Linked DNA regions of Homo sapiens: region 1 is linked to region 2. Evidence: fine-mapped expression QTL. A gene starts in region 2. The other region holds a variant in brackets. All regions are shown on one strand. Distances are between the middles of the regions. Region 1 has its middle 24 kb from the start of MIR8060. Region 2 holds the start of EPHA6 (EPH receptor A6).

Region 1 (9,720 bases), 480 kb after region 2:
CCTTGAGTAAGATTTATGATGGAAGCTGCCAATTTTGGTCTCTTCAAGGTCCTACAATCAATGGGTAAGGAGCCTTAAGATTTATGATGCAGGGTCTGAATGATCTGGTTGGGGTGCCTGCTGCCCATGCCCCACCCGACCATCAGCTTGCATTAGAAGTCTTCAGTAAGGCAAAAGGTTGGGGAATGAGTCCCATGCCTCATCTGTCTCATTTCCCCCTGAGAGATTTTATGTTCCTTATTCTTAAGGAAAAGAATCAGAGGTTTCATTTTCTGGAGTTGTTTCTTGGTGAGCCAAGCTATCGACCCTGACTAAATTTGAAAGTTCTGCAAATGCCTTACTGACTGATCTATTGATTTATAGTGACTAGACTCCCCTTGGGATGGTATGAGTTGAAATGCTTGTGACTTCATCAGCTATATGTGGAACCATTGGAGCTTGGAAGATATAAACTTTACCAAAAGGTAAAAAGACAGGAGCCAAAAAAAATAATAATAAAATGATTATCACTGGTCCCAGAAAAGGCAGGAACCACTAATGCTTGGTAGATTTTTTAATAGAGTCCCAGATGGTTTTAGCAGAGGGGTTATTAAAATTATATAGCTGTATTAGTCCATTTTCTTACCACAGATAAAGACATACCCAAGATTGGGTAATTTATGAACAAAAAGAGGTTTAATGGACTCACAGTTCCAGATGGCTGGGGAGGCCTCACAGTCATGGTGGTAGGTGAAAGCCATGTCTCATACAGTGCCAGACAAGAGACAATGAGAACCAAGTGAAAAGTGTTTCTCCTTATAAAACCATCAGCTCTCGTAAGACTTATTCACTACCAGGAGAACAGTAGGGAGAAAACTGCCCCCATGATTCAATTACCTCCCACTGGGTTGGGTCTCTTCCACTACATGTGGGAATTACGGGAGCTGATATTCAAGATGAGATTTGGATAGGGACACAGCCAAACCATGTTATTCCACCTCTGGCCCCTCCCAGATCTCATGTCCTCACATTTCAAAACCAATCATGCCTTCCCAACAGTCCTCCAAAGTCTTAACTCATTTCAGCATTAACTCAAAAGTCCACAGTCCAAAGTTTCATCTGAGACAAGGCAAGTCCCTTCTACCTATGAGCCTGTAAAGTCAAAAACAAGTTAGTTACTTCCTAGACACAATGGAGATACAGGCATTTGGTAAATACAGCCATTCTGAATGGGAGAAATTTGCCAAAACAAAGGGGCTACAGGCCCCATGCAAATCCAAAATCCAGCAGGCAGTCAAATCTTAAAGCTCCAAAATGATCTCCTTTGACTACATGTCTCATATCCAGTTCACGCTGATGCAAGAGGTAGGTTCCCATGGTCTTAGGCAGCTCCGCCCCTGTGGCTTGCAGGGTACAGCCCCATGTTGGCTGCTTTCTTGCACTGGCATTGAGTGTCTGTGGCTTTTCCAGGTGCACAGTGCAACCTGTAGGTGGATCTACCATTCTGGGATCTGGAGGATGGTGGCCCTCTTCTGACAGCTCCACTAGGCAGTGCCCCAGCTGGGACTCTGTATGGAGGCTCCAACCCCACATTTCCCCTCTGCACTGGCCTGTCAGAGGTTCTCCATTAGGGTCCTGTCTCTGCAGCAAACTTCTTCCTGGACATCCAGGCATTTCCACACATCCTCTGAAATCTAAGTGGATGATCCCAAACCTCAGTTCTTGACTTCTATGCACTCACAGGCTCAACACCATGTGGAAGCTTTCAAGGCTTGGGGCTTGCACCCTCTGAAGCCACAGACCGAGCTGTACCTTGGCCCCTTTTAGCCATGGCTAGAGTGGCTAGGATGCAGGGCACCAAGTCCCTAGGCTGCACATAGCAGTGAGGCCCTGGACCTGGCCCAAGAAACCATTTTTTCTCCTTGGTCTCTTAGCCTGTGATGGGAGGAGCTGCCAAAAAGCTCTCTGACATGTCCTGGGGACATTTTTTTCCCATTGTCTTGGTGATTAACTTTTGGCTCCTCATTACTTTGCTCGTTTCTGTTGCCGGCTTCAGTTTCTCCCCAGAAAATGGGTTTTTCTTTTCAATGGCATCATCAGGTTACAAATTTTCCAAACCTTTATGCTGTTTGCGTTTTAAAACTGAATGCTTTTAACAGCACCAAAGACACCTCTTGAATGTTTTGCTGCTTAGAAATTTAGAAATTTAGTAATTTCTTCTGCCAGATAACCAGATAAATCATCTCCCTCAAGTCAAAGTTCTACAAATTTCTAGAGCAGGGGCAAAATGCCACCAGTCGCTTTGCTAAAACATAACAAGAGTCAACTTTATTCTCGTTCCCAACAAGTTCCTCATCTCCATCTGAGACTACTTTGGACGTGTTTTCATTGTCCATACTGTTATCAGTGTTTTGGTCAAAGGCATTCAACAAGTCTCTAGGAAATTCCAAACTGTCCCTCATTTTTCTGTTTTCTTCTGAGCCCTCCAAACTGCTCTAATCTCTGCCTTTTACCCAGTTCCAAAGCCACTTCCACATTTTCAGGTATCTTAACAGCAGTGCTCTACTCTATTGGTACCAATTTACTGTATTAGTTCATTTTCACATGCTGATAAAGACATACACAAGACTGGGTAATTTATAAACAAAAAAGTTTAATGGACTCACAGTTCCACGTGGCTGGGGAGGCCTCAAAATCATGGTGGAAGGTAAAGGCATGCCTTCCGTGGTGACAGACCAGAAAGAAGGAGAACCAAGGGAAAGAGGTTTCCCCTTATAAAACCTTCAGATCTCCTGAGACTTATTCACTACCAAGAGAACAGTAGGGAAGGAACTGTTCCCATGATTCAGTTGTCTCCCACTGGGTCCTTCCCACACATGTAGGAATTATGGAAGCTACCATTCAAGATGAGATTTGGGTGGAGACACAGCCAACCCATAACAATAGCCATGTAGCCTGTTGGAGGATGAGTCCTGTCCTTTGTTCTATTTCTCCAGTAACATTAATGTAGAAATAATAGGATATATTTGTAATAGCACATAATTCTCTTTTTTTAGTCAGTAAGTAATCAAAGGTTAATTGATGGTCTAGGATCATTGAAGCCAGGGAGTCTAACAACTTTTGTATGAGCTTAACATTCTGTCCCATTCCAGCTGCCACTGTGGATATAATGACTGTAACATTTTGTGTGACGGTATTGTTGTAAACTATTTCCCTGGCTAGTCCTATCAAGGAATCAATTAAGGTTACTATTTCATTAATTAGAATACCAACTGCTTGCTTTGACTTTCTTGTTGGCCGATACGTACTATCAAGGCTATTGGAGAATACTTTGATTTTTTGGTGGGGTGGTGCAATATATATCACAGCCCAATCACTGCCAGTATTGTTGGGATCAAGGCATTAAACTGCTATCATTTTCCCTTCTAACAGTCAAGGAAGGAAAGGGATTACAGCCTTGCTGAGCAGCATGGTCTATTTCCCTATACCCAACAAGGACAAAGGAAATTTTTGTCCAGGGGAGTGGGCTAAGAAAAGTCACAAAATATCCGCAAGGCAATCAATATCATCAGGAAAATCATCAGACTTAGAGACAGGTAATATATTTGTCTGTAAACTGGCCTTCTTGAACAGGTACTTGAGGTCCTCCATGGGCTCACCTCTATTATAAGAAATAAGCTTCAGCCATTAGTGTTATTTTGGTCTGCAGAAAAACTTGGAAATGTAAGTTAGGAGACTGGTAGCCCAGAAATAACTTGAGATGTAGTCTAAATTATAGAAAAAATTCAAAAAACTCAAAAACAATGGAAAAGGCTGAAATCTAAGAACAGTTTTATTATAGTGTTTTTTGAAACATTATTTTTCTCTCTCCAGTTTCCCATTTTTAGACAAAACTAATAGGACCAATTTGTTTGCAAAATAAGTTTTAATGTTATTATAGTGGCCTTGCTTCTTTGCATAAAGTGTACCAAGAAAAAATATTTGACATATAGATTTATAGTCATTCTGTTTTGTTTTGTTTTGTTTGTTTTTTTTTTCAACTTCACTTTGCTGAAACTCATTTTCATAAGGGATCTCAGATTAGATGTTTTCAAGCCTTGAGCCAAGCCACAGATTTATCTGTGCCTGCAAATACCTGTATGAATTGGGTGAATGCCTGTCCTGTTGAGATCCCAATATAACTTGGGGTTTCTAGACCTGTTAGAAAGTGCCATTCTTTACTTACCACAGGTGGGAAATCCTGTACAAGGACTATATACTCAAGGTATGAGGCCAGTTTTTCCAAAGGGTTTTTATCAGGTCTATAAGTCATCTTCAATTTATAAAGCATGCCATTGCAGTTAAAGCTTTGGTAAAAACACAAGTCTCTAAATGTGTCTTGTTAGAAAAGAAAATTGATTCTTATTTCACTTATGCTAAAAACTGTATTGACATAAGTTAAGAATACACAAAAATAGTTTTTATATTCTGGAGAAATTTGGTAGAGATAAAGAAGTATGTTCTAAATTTTGCTTCTAGGAGTATATTTTCCTCTATTGTTGAAAGCTGTAAAAAAAAACTAAAAAAAAAGTGTTTTGGCTCTGAAAAACAAAACAAAAAAAGCAATAGCAATTAGAGAAAACACAGTCATAAGAAGTTTTTTTTAAAACTTCTATTAGTTTAGTTCATGCAGGTAACTCTTGTTTTAATCAATATTTAGAAACATATTAGTGCTTCAAGAGGGACTTTGAAGTTTTTTGCTCTATCCTAATGGCCCAATCTCTAGTTATTAGAAACCTGCATTCAAGAGCAACTGTCAGAGACCTACAGCTGATTATAAAACCACTTTCTGAGAAGGATCAAAAAGTAAAACAACAATTGCAGATGACAAAAATTTCAGAACAACCATGGTTAATGACACAACTGAAAATAAAATTTGGTTATTTTATGATATACAACAATTTAACGTAAACATAAATATTACTGAAAATATTATAATTGAGACATATCCAAAATAACGGAGTCCTGTGGAATTCTGGAACACATATTAATAATACTTTTATTCAAACATTCCTCCATCAAAGCCAAACATTTATTTTACACTTGACAATGTTTCTTGTATAATTTTAATATGTTATATAAGCCAAATGTCTCTTTTTGACTTGATTTTAGAAATTTTGTCAAATATCAAAGGTTTAAAACACTCAACATCACAAAATAGGATCTCAGGTTATTTATTTAGCCAAAGTGCTAACTCAAACATTTCAAAAAAGTGAAATCCTTTAGTTATTTATACAAGGGTGACTCAGCTTTCCAAATAACAAGACCTAATAAAGACAGAAAAAA[A/G]TAACCTAAAAAATCCCCTTCAAATTTTGGCTAGCTTTCTTCCACACCTAACTTTCCTTATAAGATTAAACTTTTATACATCTTTTATAACCTGCTAAAACTTTAGTTCTGTAGTATTATTCTTTGAATTTAGGATGATCTGTATAAGCCTCTAAATTCAAGAAAATTATTTTTCCTATAACAAAAGCCATATTTCAATACCTTTTTGTGACCTTTTATTAAAAAAACACTTTTTACTTTACATACTTTACATGTAAAACTGTTTTTCCAGTAGTCTCACTTAGAAATGTTACAATATTATCTCTTAACAACTTTTAATTTTAGTGAAAAACTTGGTTAGTAAAAATTTTAACCATGTATCAGATTGCAGAGCCCAGAACAAGGACAGAGCTGCAGACAGTATCTGAGTCTTCCCAGCCTAGCCAGGGCACATAGCTAACTTCACATGTCTCCAGGCCTTACCTAGATTCTAATAGCTGTAAAACAGACAAGTGAAACAATTATCAAAAATGTCATAGAATCAGTTTATGACCTTAAAGCACCTTGTGAACGAAGTTTCTGACCTGCTTAATTTAGACCAAGGCTAAATAGTGAAGAAGTTTTAAATTTTATTTTACCAAAAATCTTTAAAATTGTCTGTATTTATCAACAATTGTTGAAGTCATATGAAACGAAAGAGCAATGGATTTAAGTTGCGAGTACTCATTTACTTATAAGCCAATTTGGTATTCTGCTAGACAAAACATATATCATAATATATGTACATAAACACATCTAAACATGTGGACATACACATAAACAAAGATTCAATAGCTTTTACCTTGGAATTCTAGTCATTTTATAAAAGACAGCAATATGAACTCACCATTTTATAAAATATAGCTGGATTCAAATTATTTTTCTAACAAAATTGTAACCTGTTCATATGGCTAAACTTTTCCTGTCCTGATAAGTAATCTAAGGAAAGCTGTGTACCAAATTTGGATAAAGTAGCCTGTATGGTAGTTTAGTTTTAAAACTCTCTTTTACCTCTTTTTTTCTTTAGTTTTAAACAAGTTTTTTAAAAGTTTACATTTCAGTTAAACCATAAACATTGAGTCTTATCTCATCACCAGCAGCTTAACAATAGCAGATGCAAAGCAGGCAGAAAAGAAATAGGGGGAGATAGAGAATGTTAGACGACTTGACTTAAATCTGTAGTTACAGATTATTAGCATTCTGAACTTTTTTTATTGTGCAGAAAACCAATAATTACTGTCACACTCAGATGTGCCTGGTGCCTTCCTGAAGGCCAGAAGTGTGGCAAAGAGAAGCAAAGCATTAATGATGAGTTTTACACAAAGATACAAAATCAAAATCTAGGTACATAAGGAGAGAAAAAAAAAGGGAGAGAGAGATATATATTTCCTGGGACTCAAACCCAAATCAACTAATGTGAAGGATGAAGTGAAACCCATCTCACTGACAACTGGGTTGATTATACTCAGATCAGCTGTTTCAATCTGTCCTTTATAAATATATATTCAAGTGTCCCAGACTGGTAAAACTGAGTTGACTGTTTCAACTTGTCTCATATGGATGTCCATTTAGATCCAACTTTCTGTGTTAAGAAGTGAGGAAGAGAGGAGGGGCACCCTGAGTGGCAGAAAAGATAGGAAAGGGAAAAGAGAGTAAAGAGAGAGGAAGGGAAGGGAAAAGAGCATGGCTCAGTGGAGGTGGCAAGGAGCTCTGGAGGTTGAAGAAAGACTCACCAGCTGTGGTGACACTGAATCAAAGATTCAGGGGGCGTCTCACTAGCTGTGTAGTGATCTTGTCCAGCAGTCCTTTTAGCCCACGAATCTCCCCCATCATGGGAGAAAGGGCGCTCCGTGTCCCATGATCTCATATGAGCCCCCAATTAATATATTACCAAACACAGATTCTTGTGCTATCAATGCAATAGAAATTGACAGAAGGCCAAAGGAGTTTTCCCAGCAAAACTTTATTTGATTCTATGCCCAGGCATAAGAGAGAGAAAATTCTCTGCCTGCCTCTCTGAAGAGAGTCAGGAGAGTAATTTTAAAGGAGCTAAAATGGGAAGGAAGTGACATGTAAGCATTTAGAGGTGGGGAACGTCTGGTATCTGGGCAGTCTGATAACATGCTTCTTCATGTATTGCATGTCTCATTAGCATGTTAAATCTCCACCCCTGGCTGTGATTTTTGATATTACAGTGAGGCAAAGGGCAAAGACTGATCATTATTTTGATCTTCTGAGCGTATGGGTAATATGGTTATCTTCAGCGGGTAAAACTTATAGTGGGTCTCCACGTTTTAATTCCCTTTAGTAAGATTTATGGCAAAAGCTGCTAATTTTAGTCTCCTCATGGTGACACAGTTGGTCAGTTAGGTACCTTGAGTAAGGTTTATGGTGCAAGGTCTGGACAGTCCGGTGGGGTCCCTGCTGGCCATGCCTGCTCCACCAAATTAGCTTGCAGTAGACGTCCTTGGTGGGGTATAGGGAGGGGCTGAGTTCTGTCTTTACTCTGTCTCAGAAAGAGAAAGAAAATCCCACTATAAGAGTAGTCTTTTAAGCCATTCTGACGTACATAGGCAAATTTAATTCCTACATTTTCTATTTTCTATTATATAATATTTGGTATTCATTTCTATTTTAACAGTTTGTAGTTTTATATTTAGACTCCGAAGTCCTGAGAAATACATTTTCTTGTTTTCATTTTCATTTTGGAACAAAGTAGCTAGTACAAAGTAAACATTCCATAATTTTAGTTGAATTAATGAAATAATGAAATCATAGAATTTTAGACTTAGAAAGAACCAAACATGTTTGACACTAATGTGAGTCTCATATTCTTTTTTTTTTTTTTTTCTTTTGAGATGGAGTCTCGCTTTGTCACCCAGGCTGGAGTGCAGTGGCGTGATCTCAGCTCACTGCAATATCCACCTCCCAGGTTCAAGTGATTCTCCTGCCTAAACCTCCGAAGTAGCTGGAATTACAGGTGCCCACCACCACGCCTGGCTAATTTTTGTATTTTTAGTAGAGACGGGGCTTCACCATGTTTGCCAGGCTGGTCTGGAACTCCTGACATCAAGTTATCAGCCCACTTTGGCCTCCCAAAGTGCTAGGATTACAAGCGTGAGCCACCGCACCCGGCCTCACATTCTTTGAGTTCAATCTTACTATTGTTAGGGGTGGCAAATATCTGAGCCTCACAGCACCACATATGTTACCAGTGGCAGGTATCCGAGTTACCAGTGGCCAATTGTATGGGTCTGCAGCAAACTCAATTCTTGCCTTCTCAGAAGAAAGAATTCGACTGAGAGGCATAAGGCAGAAAAAGAGAACAAGGCAAGTTTCAGAGCTGGAGTGGAAGTGTATTTAAAAAGGCTGTATAACAGGAAAAAAAGGAAAGTACACTTGGAAGAAACCCAAGTGGGCACGTGAAGGTCAAGTGTGGTGTTTAACCTTGATCCTAGGGCTTTACAGGCTGGTCCCTTTCCCATGATTATTCCCTTAGAGTGGGCTCCCCACATGGGCAGTGCCCTCCTTAACCTTGGGATGTGAGCATGTGCAGTGTGTTTAGGAAGTTTTACACATGTCCACCTGAGGCTTTCTTCCCTTTTCCACTCGTGTCTCCAGAAGGTCATACTCCACCATTTTGTCTCTTAATGTGTATGCCCAAGAAGTTACTTCTCCTTGGCACCTGCATTTAATTAACACTTTTGTGCAACAAGTATGGACCATCAGGAAATGGCCTCTCCCTGGTGCCAGCTGCCAATTTATCAGTTTTAGAGAGGCAATGTGAAAATTGCCAAACCGTCACCCTACATTTCTATCTGGTGAGGGAGAGCCCTCTCCTGGCCTACTTATGCCTAACTACCTATAACAATATAATATTCAACTATTCATAACTACCTGGTATTGGTGTAATGTGTAATGATAGACAAACAGATTTAAAAAAAGAGAATTGGTGTAAAAAATTAAACATACACAACTGAGTTTTGATAAAATACCCAGGACAAAGGCTAGTCTTTTCAACAGATGTTGCAAGAACAATAGCTACCAATATGGAAAAAAATTAAATGTTGACCTTAACCTCACTATAAACACAAAAATTAACTTGGAATTGAGCATCACTATTAACATAAAGGCTAAAATTTAAAAACTTCTGGAAAATATCACATTTCTACAAGAAGCAGGACACACCATGACCCATTTACAAGGAATTGAGGGTAAGTGAGCAAAGGAAATACGCAGACTGCTGGGGGTGATGGAAGTGTCTGTGTGGTACAATATGAAATATAAAATGTATTTGGTCTTCGTCCTAGGTTTCTGTCACAGAGCTCCTAAAACCCCCTAGTGATAGGAATGTCTTTTGTTATTCATGAGTCCCTTTATAACACCTGAGCTTATGCT
Region 2 (9,386 bases):
AACAAATGGAGCATGCAGTCAGAAGCATTTGTGTATGTGAGGTGGGAGAGAGAAAGAGAGAGAGTTACTGAAATTGTGATAGGGAAAAAGGGTTGGTAGAGGGAAATTTATATCTTTTGTACTTAAGTCATTTATACTAACAATGATTAGTGAAGAAACAAAGAAGCAAAAGGCTTTCTACTCTAATATTTTTTAATACTTATTTTGTGATGTAAAAGTAACAAAAAAGTAAAAGGATGTAATTTAATCATTAATTTCCCCTGTACCAATAGATATATACTTTTCCCTTAGGAAATTCATATAAAAGTGCTATAGTCATGAATACTAAATTAACTTCAACTATATTCATTTAAGTTATTTTTTGTTTGAAGAAGAGTTCCTTAAGGATTATGTATAATTTTTGTGCAAGAAATTTTCTTTTAGATATAGTATTATCCCAAGACCAGAACAAACAACAATTAGATGATCACTGCTGGAACTGCATAAAAACATTTTATCTTTGTACTTTGGATGCTAATCAATAATGACTAATTATACAATTACTTATTTTATATTGTAAATGTATAATAAAATTATATTCTAAGTTGTATTTATACTTATGTCTAACAAGAAGTGATGTGATAACAATCTCTGGAACCCTTACAACTATAAATAGTTTATCCTCAAAAACTAATTTCTTCTAAATGAATGGTCTTTCAGAAACATTCTAAGTAATCCAGTGTTCCTAATTTAACAAAATTTTTAATATTTTCAGCATTTTAATGTTTACTTTTGAAAAATCTTTAAAAATTTCCTCAATGTCTCCATTTCTATAAATATAAGAACAATATTCAATCAGAGTTTGTGAATAAAACATATGGATAAAACTAATTTTAGGCCATGAATTTTGTTAAGCAGATGTTTTTCTGCTTAGATATATTTATTTGTATTTATATACAACTCAGTGGATTATGCAGTTGATTCGCTCAAATTAATAAATTTAATGAAATCAACCAGCCACACTATTGTTTTGCTTATTTTGTTTGTCACTGAATTGCCTGGGGGGAAAATCGATTCACAAAGTATTGCTAATAAAATAAGTTCACTAGACTAACTTACCCATACCATACTTTGACTTAATTGAATTATTTGAGTATGCAATTGATTATTTGTAAAAGCATGAGCCACACCCTTAGATATGCATCAACTCATTTAGGCTATAAAGTAGTATTTGCTGCAGAATAATCTTTGAATGAATGGATCCCTGGTGTCTACTGGCCACTGTGATACACGGTAAATGGTTAACTTATACATGAAGCAAGATTGTGTTTTATATTCATATAAGTGTATAGTACAGAAATGAAAGGCTATATTCCTTGAAAAGATGAAATGTTTTTAAAATAAAAATTTCCAACACTTAATTAATACTGTGGTTTTAAATACAGGGAAAATTAATTGACTATGAGAGAGATTTAAACACAATTCATGTTTCCACTTACTTAATCAGATGAAGTGATCTAGGAAGAACCTTTACTTTCTGATCGATTCAAGGAGGTTTGGTTCATAGGAAGAGAGAGTCAAATTGATTTATTTCATCTTTACAGTCAGCTTCACACTCAGTTAAAAGACAAGAGAAGAGATCCTTTCTATAGTCAAGTTACTGTTTGCACCACGTTAAAAGAATGAGGTAGTTTACTTTTTTGTCATTATCATCATCATTTTACCTTGCTTATGTATGGAAAAATGGGGATTGGGGTGGGGGTTGTGGGAAAGGTGAATCCATTCTTTTCAGCCATGAAGGATGTCATATAATTTGGTAAAACAGATATATAACATTAAAATTTTATTTTGTGAATATCTTTAATCAGGAAGAAGTTACATATAAATGTAATTTTACCCTCTATAAAATAACAAATTTCAAAATTAAAACATTAATTCCATTAGCCTTTAAAGTGAAAATTATTGGACAATTAAAACTATCTTCTCAATACTAAATATGAATTATATTACTGTTTATTTTTATGTGTATAATAAATCAAATTTATATTTTACATTTATCTTTCCATGTTGAATACATATGATAATTCTATAATGTCCCATTTTCCATGTTTAAAAATAGATGCTTTATTTTATCCATTATGAAACTACGAGTAAGGAAAATATCCCTAAAATGTTATTAAGAATAACATTTAGAAACCTAGCATTTTATTAACCATTAGTGTGATGATTTCAATATTTGAAAGTTATCTCAACTTATTATCAGGAAAAATTTCTACTCACTATGACTTTAGGCTGTAAAAAGCATCATTTTATAAGTAATAATTTGTGTCTGATAAAAATTCTGATTATAATGTTCTTTTGAAGAAGTCACCTAAATTTTATCCAATTTAACCTTCAGGTACTATTTTGCCCACTGTACTCTTATGCACAGCCTGTGTTATCGGTATATCAATACAAATTCAAATTAAGAGTTTAAGTAGACAATCTTTAATGCTTCTATTTAACTGATGGGAAAATTGGATAATACTCATTCACTAAGTTTAGCTAATTAATAAAAATAAATAAATTACATATGTTTGGCATATATTCTAGGTCAAACATCTGTAAATACTATGAGAAAGTCATTAAAATAGATAAGCAAATAAAAATTACTGGAAGAGGTTAATAAATAACATCTCGATGCTTTTAAATTTACTATGAATGTCTGAAAGGTCATGCTTTAACAGGACATATTTTGGCAGAATGGCACTTTAGGGTCATTTGTAGATTCAGATATCTGTTTTATTTATGTTAGTATCCCCTGGGCCTAGGGTAGTTACTGATGCATCATAGGTATTTAAATAAATAAACATTGTTTGGGGAAATTATTGCATGGGAACAACTGTTACAAACTTCTAGTACACTTGACTCTCAAAGTATTCATCTCTAGTATCCTTACTTACTATTATAAAGTACAGTATCAATGTCTGACTTTCCAATTATTAAAAATTGTTTTGTCATAATAAAAAAGGGTAATCGTTACACGTTTTTTAACAATCTTCTACCTTCACAGAAATGAAGTTAACTACCTATTCAATATTTTATACCCACAGTCTTTGAAAATAAATGAGGGATGTAGTGTGATGGTATATACCACCACAGCAAAACAGGACACTGTAACTGATATCTATTATGTGATCTATCTTCAAAGCCATGAAGGTTATGTATGGTTTCCAAATTCACCTACACATTTGTGATTGCATTCTGTCAGTTTAAAATAACTGTAATAATTAGGAAAATATGCCAAAGTACCACTGTATAAATGAGAACAATTTAATAATTATATTTTATTCTGATTCTGAACATTTCTAAGTAAAATGGCCATATATGTTGATGACAAAGAAGAATGCTGTGTTGTTTATCTTCTCCCTTAACCTTCTCCTCACACAAAAAGTGAACACTTTCAAGCCATCTGACCTCCATTTTTATACCTGCAAATTACTTCGAGACTCTGAAACATATGCCTTATGTGTTAAATGATAACTATAACTGACTACCACACATAATATTTGAAGGGACATATCGGTTGGTCATTACAGCACGAGTGAGAGAATATCTAGCCAGATACATGCTGGGAAACTTTTATGGTTGTTTCATGCTTAGTCTGAAAGGACTTAGAATATGCAGGTGGTACTTTTTATAGATCTTTATGCACAGCAGAAATACAAGGAGATATATTTCATGAAGATTGTATGAATAGAAAAAGGGAAAATGCTCAAATATTCCAAGGGCTTTCCATCACTTTTTAACCACTATTTACCTTCACTTTACCACTTTACCCACCGAAACAAAGTCCTCCAAGCAATCTGTCAGTGACTTGACTTCATGAATAGGGTATTCACAACTTGGAAATTCACCCTAAACCCTTTTCTACTCCCTGCCCGCAAGAATATGAAACCCCTACACAGATCTGGAGCATCTGGTCTAGGAAGAATTTCGAGTAAGTCTACTTCGGTGGCCTGGATGGTAGATGAAGCATGGGGACTGAGGCTGGGCGAGGGCGGCAGTCACCGGAGGGGTGGGGAAAGACTGATAACTGGTCACGGGGTACAGCGGGAGCACCCTGCCTTTCAAGAAGGCATGTGGGAGAACCACACGTTCCCCTGAGAAGAGCGACCACCAAAGAGCCAGAAGTCTCCATTAAGTCTGTGCCACGGAGCCTGACTTCCAGTGGAGACAGCGCAGCGGGGAGCGGTCCCACGGCCGCTAGCGGTGGGACCCAACTGCAGCTGATGCTCACGCTACCGTTTAAAGACATTTAGAAACACAACGGATCCTAGCCTGTGGAGTCACCGTCCCGGGCGGTGTAAACAGGGCGCTAGGGTAAGGGGACATCCTCGATCCCCTCGTGTGGCGAGCCAGGAGACTCTGACCCCTGTACAAAGTTACCTGCAGGAGGCAACCAGTACCCTGGTTCTCCAAGCACCCTCCTCCTCCCACCCACTCCCGCTCCTCCGCCCCGTCCCTTACCTTGGTTGTTGGAGACGTGACTGCAGTCGCCTGGCCACGCTGTCAGCAGAGGCAAGAAGAAACCAAATTGCAAAAGAAATTCCCGGACTTCGCAGCCCCCCATGGTTCTCCTAGGCTCTCTTTTCCTCTCCCTTAAAGAGAAGTGGCGGCAGCGCAGGCAGGTGTTCTGGGTAGGATGGGGGTCCTTGTCCACGTCTTCTTCCTCCTCCTCCTCTTCCTCCTCCACCCGGCCCGCAGGGGGTGTCCCGGGGCGCCCCCTGCGCGAGGTCCCGGGAACAGGGCACGAGGGTCCAGGCTGCCCAGTTGCAGGTGCAGCTGCTTCGGAGGAGGACGCTGCCTGCGGCGCCGGGGAGCTCCTCGCGGCTGGAGGCGAGGGGAATTGCATCCACCACAGTGTCCCGCTTGCGCGAGGACTATTCACTTGGGCCGGAGAGAGCGCGCGCGCGCAAGAGCGAGCTCGGGCTGTGGTTTGGGGGAGGGGAGCGAGGGGGCGGGGAGCGCCTCACCGCGAGGACGGGGGCGGGGACGGACTGCCAGGTGGGGCGGGCAGTTGGGGCGGCCCGAGGACCTCTCCCGACTCAAGTGGGCACTTGCGGAGCCAAAAGCAGGGGAGGCGCTGCAGCTGTGAAGAGGCGTGGGGGCCGCGGGAACTTTCCTCTGGCCGGTGCGATGAAAGCCGGGCGGACGAGGTGGCTCAACGGGGCTGAGAGTGGTTCGGCCGAGGCGCGGGCTGAGCCCTCAGCACCTGGCCTGAGCGGCGTGGGCAGCAGCCTGCACCGCGGACACCTCCAACTCTGCCGCGTCTGCGCCGCACTCTGGCCGTGGCAGCGATTTTCCGGGCATCTCTGAGGCCGCCCTTAGTCCCACAAGCACTTAGCCGCCCATTTCAGAGCAGCGGCGCCGACCGTTTTAAGAGGAGTCAGTTCCCGACACCGCCTCCCACTTACTTCTCCACATTTCCACCGCTGGAGGGGGTGAGTGCCGTGGACAGGCGCTCCCGTCCGGGGACAGCTCAGCGGCGGCAGTCAGCCCGACCCTCCTCCGCGCGGGTCGCCCAAACTTGACCAGCAGAGCGAGCGGCTCAGCGCAGTAGCCGCCTTCGCGGCTTCCAGTTGTAGAAAAGCAAAGCGCCGGGAGGAAGCAGCAGAGGGGGGGTTACATGAGGCTGGAAAGTGGCGGGTGTACGGCGCCCGGGATCGCCGAGGTCCTTGCGTCGCCTTGCGGAGGTGACTTCGCGGTGGAGGTCACGAGCATCGTCGCAGCCTTGACGCTGGGATTCAGGGGTCCCCGAGCGTCCACGGCGTGGTGGCGTCGGGCCGCGCTCTCCTAGCAGTCCAAGGGCCGAGTGGCGCGTGGCCACATCCACAGCAGCGCAGGGGCGCCGTGGGCTGACGGCTCTCCCCGCGCGAGCCGCCCCCTCGCGGCACCCACTCCCTCCCCGCGCTCGGGTCTCCCGGAAGCCGAGGCGCGGGCCACTTGGTGGGACTCCGCGGCCCCCGCCCCAGGGCCGGGGCAACGCGGCGTGCTGACTGGGAGGACCCTCGGCGTCCGCGGTCTCCACCACCTCGCCCCGCGGCGGAGGCGGGCGCCCAGGGCAGGGACGGAGCCCGGAGCGCTGCAGAGCCCGGCCAAGCCCAGCCTTCTCCCGGCCTGGCAGCCGCGGCTCGGATGCCGCCAGTTCGGCGCTAGAGGGGGTTAGTCGACAACAAAAATGCCTGCACCGCTCGCAGGTGGAGGCGGCTCATCAGGCCAGGAACCGAAAGGAGGGAGGGATGCTGTCAGGCTAAACTTAACGCCTTGGTTAAGGGCGCGTCAAGGAAACCGTATCGCTTGGGTGGGGATTTCCGTGATACTTTATTTGTTACTAGTATTTCCAACATCATTTTTCTTTCTTGAAGGGACTTCGGCTATCACAGTCGAGGGAGGTTGAAAACCCCACTTCAAAACCCGTCGGAATGTTTTGAGAAAATGTGGATGGTAATGGAGAAATGTGAACAGAGGAGAGAAAGTAGCGGTCTTGTAAAGGATATACGATATTTTCCAAGTGGGCAGAAAGCACAGGAGGGAAATGGCACAGTGACAAGAGGTCAGGGGAGCGGGAGATGGAGCCAAGGGTCGGCGTTTGACGCTTACAGAGTTCTGGAAGGGAAAGGACCCTTCTATTCCATGCATTCCTGCGCTGCGATGTTTTTGTGCCACACACCATAGCTGAAGAAGTTTCACTTAATGCCTTACAGTAAATTGGAAGGAAAGAAAGAATGAGAGCAAGAAATGTCCCATGTCAAAAATTCTGCTGCGTGGAGAGAAATGGTGAAATACAAGCGATTTGGAGAATGTGAGGAAGGGTTCTGATTGGTGACTATACTCTCATTCTCATTAGGAATTCATACACCTCTGCCTCTCTTTGAAGGTGTGTCCACACCAACTTAAATGTATGCAAATCATTTCTAAAAAGATACCATGTGTGGAGTTTATATATCGGCACTTAAGAGTAAAATCTGACTTTGATACTCATTTTGCCACTCTTACTGATATTGATTGACCACATGAGCATTTGCAAACTCATTTTAGAGTTTATAAACTCAGTTACAAAATAAAAAGACTACATTATCACCATTATAATATAAATCATTGTGTCTAAATAATGTTCTTAGAAATTTCTAATGATTCATTATCTGATAATTTTATTCAAAATCTCTTTTTATATACTGTCAAAAATATGTTTCCATGACCTTTTATAATTAAATTTTCATTTTTAAATGTTGGCTTACAGTAAATCTATAAACTTCATTAATAATTCACTAAAAGAAAAATCGTTCAAGAAAGTCCTTATAAATTGAAGGAATGTATAATATTATTATTTTAAAAATATAAACCATGTGAATCTATTTCTATACTTTTACTTTTGAAATTAACTAGACTTGCAAGGGAAACATTTTTAATGGAACATCACCAAAAAGAAGTTATTTCAGTATAATTCCTAACATAAAATATTTTAAAATCAAAGTTTAAAATCAAGTTCTGATGTTTTACTTGAGTGTTGCATTTTAGAGAATATGTTATAAAACACCAAGAAGTTTCACTTAAAATTAGACTAGAAGGCAGTACTTTTAGTGGAAGGAAGGGGAAAAGGCAGAAAAAAAAAAGGAGAAAGAAATAGAGAGGAAAACTTAGATTCATTTCTAGGATTCACGCTTAGTTAGAAATCATAGCACAGTGCCTGAAACATAACCTGTTACTTCAAAGTAACAATAATCCGCTTAATTAACCTGAATTTCTAGTCCCCCCATGCACTGTACTTACAATTCAGCTACAGTTCATAATTTGTATTTGTTTAAATGAGCCAAAGTCAAGCTTGACATATATATCTGGTTAGATAATTGATAGTCATATTCTTGTCTTGGCTTTTAAGAAAAAAATATTACAAGATTTTTCTCAATATTAAAACATACTTCACATGTTTACGTATGTTTGGATGCTATCTATTGCATGCCTAGAAGATAATGACATCTTAAGTAAAAACTCATCTAAAAAATGAGTTAAAATATGATTATCATTGCCTTTGACAATAGCAAGATTCCATGAGTTTGACATGATTATTAATGTTAAAACATGATTGTAAAAAAGAATTACCATGACCGTTTGACCATTTATATGTTTATATATATATGTGATATATATATATATATACACACACAAAGATGCACAAATATATATGTGCATGTCTCTCTAAAATATTTGTTTAGTTCTTTTTATGTGCTAAATTCTCTTCACTCAGGGAAGAGTTAATGGTAAACTACTTTGTGTAACAATAATTTCTTTTATTAAGCTAACATTTTATTTAAAATATAATCATGGTTATCTATGTAAGCTAGATGCAATTACACTTAGAAATGTACTTCCTTTTTGATTTTCTAGCAGTGTTGATATATTTGCTGACATGTGACAGTTTCAAAATTATAAGCTACTCAATGAACCAGATGCAATATTCATGTAGATTTATCTGCACTTGTCTGTTTGAATCATACCCATACTCAGAAAAGCATTCATGTCTCATTTTTCAGAACTATATTGTTCAGAATTCTTCTGTATTCTCTCAGACTATTGTTCTTCACGATATATGTGGTCTGGATTCAGGTAAGAAATGATGAAATTTTTTATTAAATAAAGGATATATGACATTAAAAACTGGTGTGCTTTTATTTATAGTAGAAATAATAGTATTCATAAATATTATTTGCTTTTTAAAATGATTAAAAGAGGAGAGACTTAACCTGCAATTACTTCCTTTGAGAAAAAAAGAAGGATTATAATGTTTAATACTCAGCATGTTTCAAGACTTGAGAAAGTCTTAAGTATATTATTCTGGTAAAAGAGTAAATTAATCCATTCACAGCAGCAATTTGCATTCTCTAAGGTCAAGGTAGAAAAAACATAAATAAAAAGAATGTTGATCCTCAAATATGACAAAATATCAGGTCTTAAAAGATTAGGTATGTACTTTGAAAAGAACAAATTGCATAAATCTTTTTTGATAATATAAAATGTAAAGACATGCTGTAGGCAATAATATTATCATATTCATGCCATCAACTTTAAAATATGTTAGTTACAAGATTGTATTCTATGTGTTTCAGCATTGAAACCGCTAAAATAAAAATAAAATCCACAATGTCAAATATAGTTAATTTGAGTCTCTTTGCGTTTAGGAAGTATGTAATTAGGGGAAAACATACACATTGTTTACTTCAGAAATTTTGCTTTGGTGTTAGGAAGTAGATAATAATTTTCTGGAAAAGAACATTCAAAGCAGTGAATTCTAAGCATATCATATCTTAGAAACCTTACAGAAAAAAATGCAACTTGAAGTTACATAAAATGTACTATTGTTGATTCTG

What was found. PIP is the estimated chance that this variant, and not a neighbour inherited with it, causes the effect.
Region 1: its variant is fine-mapped to the expression of EPHA6 in esophagus muscle (GTEx, PIP 0.95).

What each region holds. Positions count from the first base shown.
Region 1 is chr3:96,330,973-96,340,692 of GRCh38, reverse strand. No RefSeq gene overlaps it. Among named protein-coding and RNA genes, the nearest start is that of MIR8060, 24 kb to the left of the region's middle. The variant A/G (reference allele first, on the strand shown) is at 5,305.
Region 2 is chr3:96,810,111-96,819,496 of GRCh38, reverse strand. EPHA6 (EPH receptor A6) reads right to left here and starts at 4,903. Exons shown (of 18, transcript NM_001080448.3): 1 at 4,489-4,903. The coding sequence starts at 4,873. It overlaps LOC124909397 (a long non-coding RNA gene), which reads left to right and starts at 5,090. Exons shown (of 2, transcript XR_007095974.1): 1 at 5,090-5,462; 2 at 6,387-8,676. RefSeq lists silencers at 5,818-5,937, 5,998-6,067.